Linked DNA regions of Homo sapiens. The protein of the gene in region 1 interacts with the protein of each later gene in a biochemical or structural test. Each region holds a gene or a part of one and is shown on either strand. Other genes may lie near its edges.

Region 1 (3,818 bases):
GCTGGGATTACAGGCATGAGCCACTGCACCCAGCCTCTTTTTTGGGTCTTAGAAGCAAGTATTTAGAGGCAGTGTAGATAAAAATCCCAATCAGAACCATATTGATCCTAAATTACCTTTCTGGAACTTCAGTTCTGGCTTGTCCCTTCCATAAAAGGAGCTTAGCTTTTAACTAATTCCCTTCCCAACCTGGTCTAAAACAGCTGCTTAAAAGGGAATTTTTCTAGCATTTGGCTTTATCTGTTCCCTTTTTAGGTTCCATGGTTTTCAGTTTTAGGCTTTCCTAGGGGATCTTGTACAGCGTGATTTTTGAGGAGAGGACCAGATTCGCATCTTTGCTTTTGAAAGCACAAACCACTAGCTTCCTTTTAACTTAGAGACAGTAAAAACTTGTGTAGTGTTTGGCTAATGAGTGACAGTCTATTCAAGGTCTAGGAGGACCTGCTTGATTTCCATGCATCCATTTGTCTCAATCTCTGGCACCTACTCCCAGATCTCCTTAGGGAGGGATTCTGTTTTCAAGTTTTGTTTTGTTCTCCATCATCTACCACTTCAGCTGATACATATCTTGCCATGTGTAGTGATTATGACTCTTAATGGGCTAAGATAAAAAGGACTCAAGTCTTATAAGACATTTAGCTCAAACACCCAAGATTGGCCCAATTTCTATCAAGCTATAGGCTGTTTTTCAAGCCAAATTTATCAGCAACTAGGGAAGACAGGACTTAACGATAGGTGTAAATGCCCTGGAGAGTTGAACATCTTGTTATGGGAACTGATCTTAGCTTTAATACGATCTAGTGAAGTTCAGCCATCCTAGGAAGGATGCTGCTGGGAGGGAGGGACAGGTGTGCTGCCCTACTCCTCCAATCGAATTGCTTTCCTGTTCAGTCACATATGCTCCCCATGCTTAACTTGCCAGGGCTATTTTCTCAGTAGTGGCAAGTGGTCTGTGTCGATTTTTCATATCTAAAAAATAGCATAGTTGAATAATTAGTCATTATACTTTGTCAAATATAGAGATGTGGTTTATTAGAGGGCCTACTCGGGTAGTCCTTGCCACCCATTTATTCTGTGGGTTTGTTTGTTTTGTCCTCTTACCATAGAAACCACCATCATGGGTTCGGGTCCCATAGACCCCAAAGAACTTCTCAAGGGCCTGGACAGCTTCCTTAACCGAGATGGGGAAGTCAAAAGTGTGGATGGGATTTCCAAGATCTTCAGGTGAGTCTTTACCCCTTTTTGTATTCACTGTGAGTAGAGAATATTGTGTGTTAAAACATGGCTGCAGTTGAGGCACACTGGAATGATCCTGGAAAGGAAAGGGAAAGATAGTCAGTGCAATAGGATTAAAATGTAACAATTTTAGGATAAGGGATAGGAAAAGATGATCACTTGTTTCTGACCATAATGGAAACTGGAGATTTGGACGTCCACGGTCCCAAGGGAGTCATGCTTTGGAATGAGAGCAGGGTAGCCTGGTAACAGAATTCTAGATTGTTTTGGTTCGTGTTCCACCTACCCATAATGTTATTTTCCTTCAGGGATTCTCAGGTTTTTCAGGGGAGAGTAAATAACTAAGCCAGTCTTGAACAGACTATTAGGGACAGTTGTTGAGGGATAGCCTTATCACCTGGAGGCAGAATGGAATTCATCCTGTGTGTTACGGAGGCAGCGATGCTCTCCTCCCCAGGTCAGAGACTGCGGTGTCTCTGTTCTCCCATAAGTTTCCATGTCACACTGGATCCATCCCATCTTCCTAGAGGTATATGTGACTCCCCTTCTCTGGAGCAAAGTCCCAAGTCATTAGGAATCTCTAGGCAGTTCACAGAGAGGCGCTTTTGCTAAGAGAAGAGATACTGGCTGCTTCATTTCTAACCCTAACTCATCTTCTGCAGTTTGATGAAGGAAGCACGAAAGATGGTGAGTCGATGCACTTACTTGAACATTCTCCTGCAGACCCGTTCACCAGAAATATTGGTCAAGTAAGTGGGGATCTGGATGGTTGGAATGGGAAGGTGTAGCGAAAAGATGGGGCGGTGAGGCATGGGGTTCCTCGGTCATTGATGGGAGACTGGGATTGTAGGATGTGGTACTGTCAAAACCTAGAAAGGGCATTACTGATAGACTCTCCTGCCTGCCTGCAGATTTATTGACGTTGGCGGCTACAAACTTCTTAACAATTGGCTGACGTATTCAAAGACAACCAACAACATTCCCCTCCTCCAGCAAATTCTACTGACCCTGCAGCATCTACCGCTCACTGTAGACCATCTCAAGCAGGTACCTTTAGTCTTTAAACCCTGATTCTTCCTTTTTTGGTTTAGTCTAATGGATGAAAAACTCAAACTGACTGATGTGGCTGTAATCTTGGGCCTGTGAGGTAGAACAGCAGAAAAAAAATAGGAATTTAGAAGAAGAAGACTTGGTTTGAATTTATCTCCTTTAATAGGTGTGTGGCGGCTGGGCACGGTGGCTCACGCCTGTGATCCCAGCACTTTGAGAGGCTGAGGCGGGCGGATCATGAGGTCAGGAGACTGAGACCATCCTGGCTGACGTGGTGAAACCCCGTCTCCACTAAAAATACAAAAAATTAGCCAGGCATGGTGGCATGCGCCTGTAGTCCCAGCTAATCAGGAGGCTGAGGCTGGAGAATCGCTTGAACCCAGGAGGTGGAGGTTATTGTGAGCCGAGATCGCACCACTGCACTCCAGCCTGGGCGACAGAGTGAGACTTCGTCTCAAAAAAAAAAAAAAAAAAGGAATGTGTCAGCCAGGTGTGGTGGCTCACACCTGTAATCCCAACACTTTGGGATGCTGAGGTGGGTGGATTGCTTGAGCCCAGTAGTTCAAGACCAGCGTGGGCAAAAATGATAAAACTCTGTCTCTACAAAAAATACAAAAAATTTACCCAGATGTGGTGGTGCATGCCTGTAGTCTCAGTTATTTAGGAGGCTCAGGTGGGAGAATCATTTGAGCCTGGGAGGTCGAGGCTGCAGTGAGCCAAGACTGCGCCACTGCACTCTAGCCTGGGCAACAGAGTGAGACTCCGTCTCAAAAAATAAAAAAAAAAAAAAAAGCAGGGAGGACTGTAACTTTTGTCGTTTTTAGCTCTAAGTGGAATTATTTGCCTCCTGGCATTTACCTTTCTGCTGCTCCCATCTCTCATAGAACAACACAGCTAAACTGGTGAAGCAGCTGAGCAAGTCAAGTGAGGATGAAGGTAGGGTGCCACTTCTGCTCTCTCATGGGCTTTTCTCTATTACTTCCACTTAATTACCTTAATATCTTTTCCCATCCTTGGATTGTCCCTTCACTTTTCTCTTTCTACCTCACCTTGCTTTTTTTCCTTCTTTTAAAGAGAAAGTTCCTCTAACCTGTACCCTCTTTCCTGTTCTCAATTCCAAAGTTGTTCATTTCTCTGTTGCTGAATATAAGGTGCCATACTTTAACTGGAAGCTGATTCCTAAAATTGCTTGTTATAAAACACATACACTTAAAATTTGCTGTGGGAAATAGTATCATCCTAGCGTGTCTCATCTGTGAAACTCCTATTACTAAATGATAAATTATGAAATGAGTTTATAAGTGGAAATGTTGGCCAGAAGAGAGGTGCCATAGATCAGAGATGTTATTTGCCAAGTACAAAAGGAAAGAGTTACAAAGTATTTTTTCATATATTTAGAAACAAATTTTATTCTTGTTTTCACATCTATAAAGGAAAATAAAAAGTCTTCAGATTGTTGTAACAATTAGGTGTGTTATACATAAAGCAACTAACGTAGCTTTTTAAAAAAATGTCAGTTTTTGAGGAACTGG
Region 2 (3,818 bases), on another chromosome or scaffold:
TCCTCAGGATCCTAAGGTTTTACATTCTTTTCCAAAATCATTAACTACACTGCTTCCTTAGAAAACCACTTCTGAAATACAGGCATGAAAAGTAGAAATGACATACTTAACTAAAAATCAATACAGGCAGAAGAGTCTCATTAAAAAAAAAAAAAAATGGAAAAAAGGACTTCCGCCCATTCTGCTCTGAGATAGGCACAGCCAAAATAGCAGTATAAGCTATCCTTGTGGAATGACATTAGAAAAATCTTTTTTGTTTTTTTGAGATGGAGCCTCGCTCTGTCACCCAGGTTGGAGTGCAGTGGTGTGATCACCCTAGACCTCCAGGGCTCAAGCAATCCTCCCACCTCAGCCTTACAAGTGGCTGGGACTACAGGCGCGTCCCATCACACCTGGCTAATTTTTGTATTTTTTGTAGAGACGGGGTTTTCCCAAGTTGCCCAGGCTAATCTCGAACTTCTGTGCTCAAGTGATCCACTCTCCTAGGCCTCCCTAAGTGCTGGGATTACAGGCATGAGCCACTATGTAGCCACCGGCCTAAAAAAAACCTTACTGCAAAATGTGAGATGATCATCAATAATCCACTGAAATAAGTTTAAAAACAGAATCCTGGCCGGGCGTGGTGGTTCACACCTGTAATCCCAGCACTTTGGGAGGATGAGGCAGGCAGATCACTTGAGGTCAGGAGTTCGAGACCAGCCTGACTAACATGGTGAAGTCCCAACTCTACTAAAAATACAAAAATTAGCCGGGCGTGTTGGTGGGCACCTGTAATACCAGCTACTTGGGAGGCTGAGGCAAGAGCATCGCTTGAACCCAGGAGGCTGAGATTGCAGTGAGCCGAGATTGCACCATTGCACTCCAGCCTGGGCAACAAGAGCAGGACTCTGTCTCAAAAGAATAAAGAATAGGCCGGGCACGGTGGCTTACAAGGTCAGGAGATCAAGACCCATCCTGGCTAACATGGTGAAACCCTGTCTCTACTAAAAATACAAAAAATTAGCCAGGCATGGTGGCATGCACCTGTAGTCCCAGCTACCTGGGAGGCTGAGGCAGGAGAATTACTTGAACCCGGGAGGCGGAGGTTGCAGCGAGCTGAGATCGCGCCACTGCACTCCAGCCTAGGCAACAGAGTGAGACTCTGTCTCAAAAAATAAAAACAGACAAACAAAAGAAAATAAACAAAATTAAAAAATTAAAGAATTCTAACATGAAAATAAGTGTTACAGTTCAGTTACCAAGACAATCTGTTAACTTAGGATTTATCTCGAGACATGCAGGCAAAAACAGAGATTGTTTATTATAGAAAGAAACTCACAAGTTCAATTTCTAAAAGTAACTCTACTCTTTAGATCAAAAAACGTTCCTGGAATCAGAAGTGACTAAGGTTGGGAAAACACCAAAACTGTTCTAACTTCCCTTAAACTATCATAGTTCAAGCATTTGTGAAACTTTTCTCAAATCTCTATCATTTTAAAAGAAAAAGTCCTGTTGTTTATCACTTGCTGTGTATCAAGTGTTCTTTCCTTTTATTTGTTCTAAAAGTGTTCTTTTTGGAGATGGAGTCTCACTCTGTCGCCCAGGCTGGAGTGCAATGGCGTGATCTTGGCTCACCACAACCTCTGCCTCCCGGGTTCAAGAGATTCTCCTGCCTCAGCCTCCTGTGTAGCTGGGATTATAGGCGTGCACCACTGTGCCCAGCTAACTTCTGTATTTTTAGTAGAGACAAGGTTTCACCATATCGGCCAGGCTGGTCTTGAACTCCTGACCTCAGTGATCCGCCCACCTCAGCCTCCCAAAGGTTGGGATTATAGGCGCGAGCCCCTACGCCCGGCTTTAAAAGCGTTCTTTTAAGTGTCAGGAAGTACAAATCATAAACACAATTAGTTGTTTCCTTTTTCCACTCCCCACTCTGAATTGAAGACTTTTCATACTCAGTCCCAAGTCCTTCAAAAGTGCCAATGGCTTGCTTCCAGCATTCCTTCAGTCAAAACAATGCAATTAACATTACTAACATTATATGAAAATACTTAAACTAAAGTAGTCACAAAGCAGAAGTAGTCACAAAGATTCCATGAACTATTTAACAAAGGAAACCATGACCTTAACTTCCTAAAAAGGCTTGCTTACCGTCTATTTTGTTAGAGCTGTAAACAACTGTGTTTGCTGCATGAGTGTATCTGATGAGGTCCACACCATATTTCTTACTGTACAGGGTTCTCTTTGGTCTGATAAGAAAATAGAGACAGAAAATCATGAACATTCTCCATCATCAAAATCTGGGATCTCCACATAAAGAGAAGCACTTGAATGATGTGGCAAAGGTGAGGATTTTTGGTAAGTTCTAACACTGGAAAGAAACAACTTCTTCCAAAAGGGAAAAAACAACGCTCAAGCAACAGCCATCTGAAGAAGCTTTCCACCTTAGAACACCTAGTGGCAAGGTTAGGTGGGAAGTAAAAGTAAATCTGGGGATTCAATTCAGTCTTTACTACAATGTTCAAAAGCTTTGAGAAAAAATACAATCATGTGCCATGTGATGACATTTTTATCAACAACAGACAGCACATAGGGTAATGGTCTCATAAGATTATAATAGAGCTGCCCTCTACAACCGATGTTTCATTTTTTAAATCCCTTAAACTGTTTTACGGCACCTTTTCTATGTTTAGATACACAAACACTTAACGCTATATTATAATTGCCTACAGTATTCAGTACTGTAAAATGCTGTACAGGTTTGTAGCCTAGGAGCAATGGGCCATACCAAACAGCCTAGGTGTGTGCAGATTATACCGTCAGGTTTGTGTAAGTACACTCTATGATGCTGCTGCAACAAAAACTCACGTGATGATCCCCATCTAAGTGATGCATGGCTGTACATCTACTTGGGAAGAAAGGCACACAAAACAAGTCTTAACTTACAACAAAGAGGGATATGAGAATATGTCAAACCCAAGAGGCCAAACTTTTCTTCTCAAGACATCCATTTAGAAAGAAGCTCTGTGTTTTTTTTTTTCAAGACGGCAGTGATTCCTCAAAACTGAAACCAGATGCAAAACTGCTTGCCTTTGCTAATGTAACCTGCTCTTGCAGAAGACATCCATCCTTCCTATCCTACAGGTCAAAAGCGCTTGCTGAGCCTTTTAGAAGGCAAGCCTAACTTTCTCTAGCAAAACCAGTTAAATAGTTCCTTTGCTTTTACTTTAAAGCAAAATCACACATTTCTGGCCACAAGGTGGTGGCTCACATCAGTCATCACAGCACTTTGGGAGGCCGAGCCAGGCAAATCACCTGTAGTCAGAAGTTCGAGAGCAGCCCAACATGGTGAAACCCCGTCTCTACTAAAAATACAAAAATTAGCCGGGTGTGGTGGCACACACTTGTAATTCCAGCTACTCAAGAGGCTGAGGCAGGAGAATTCCTTGAACCCAGGAGGCAGAGGTTGCAGTAAGCCAAGATCGTGCCACTGCAATACAGCCTCTGCGACAGAGTGAGACTCCACCTCAATAACAGACAAAAAATCACACATTTCCAAGCTAGAGGTTATCAATCTCCATTTGTTGAAGTTCCTTAAATGTCTCCCTTTACAGAACCTTGAAGAGCAAGGCTAAAACTGGTCTCAACAGAACCTTTAACCAAAAACTCTAACACATACTGGTTAAGTTAGAAAAATTTTAGGCTGGGCGTGGTGGCTCACGCCTGTAATCTCAGCACTTTGGGAGGCCGAGGAGGGTGGATTGCCTGAGGTCAGGAGTTTGAGACCAGCCTGGCCAACATGGCGAAACGCTATCTCTACTAAAGATACAAAAATTAGC

Evidence for each region.
Region 2: the proteins of PPP1R10 (region 1) and WDR82 form a complex in vitro, tested with the Homo sapiens proteins (one study listed by BioGRID).

Annotation. Positions count from the first base shown.
Region 1 is NC_000006.12:30,607,244-30,611,061, reverse strand, and holds part of PPP1R10 (serine/threonine-protein phosphatase 1 regulatory subunit 10), read left to right. Parts: intron 1-1,106; 5' UTR 1,107-1,117; coding exon 1,118-1,224; intron 1,225-1,898; coding exon 1,899-1,985; intron 1,986-2,147; coding exon 2,148-2,283; intron 2,284-3,170; coding exon 3,171-3,222; intron 3,223-3,818.
Region 2 is NC_000003.12:52,268,582-52,272,399, forward strand, and holds part of WDR82 (WD repeat-containing protein 82), read right to left. Parts: intron 2,229-3,818; coding exon 2,131-2,228; intron 1-2,130. UniProt on the Homo sapiens protein: Regulatory component of the SET1/COMPASS complex implicated in the tethering of this complex to transcriptional start sites of active genes.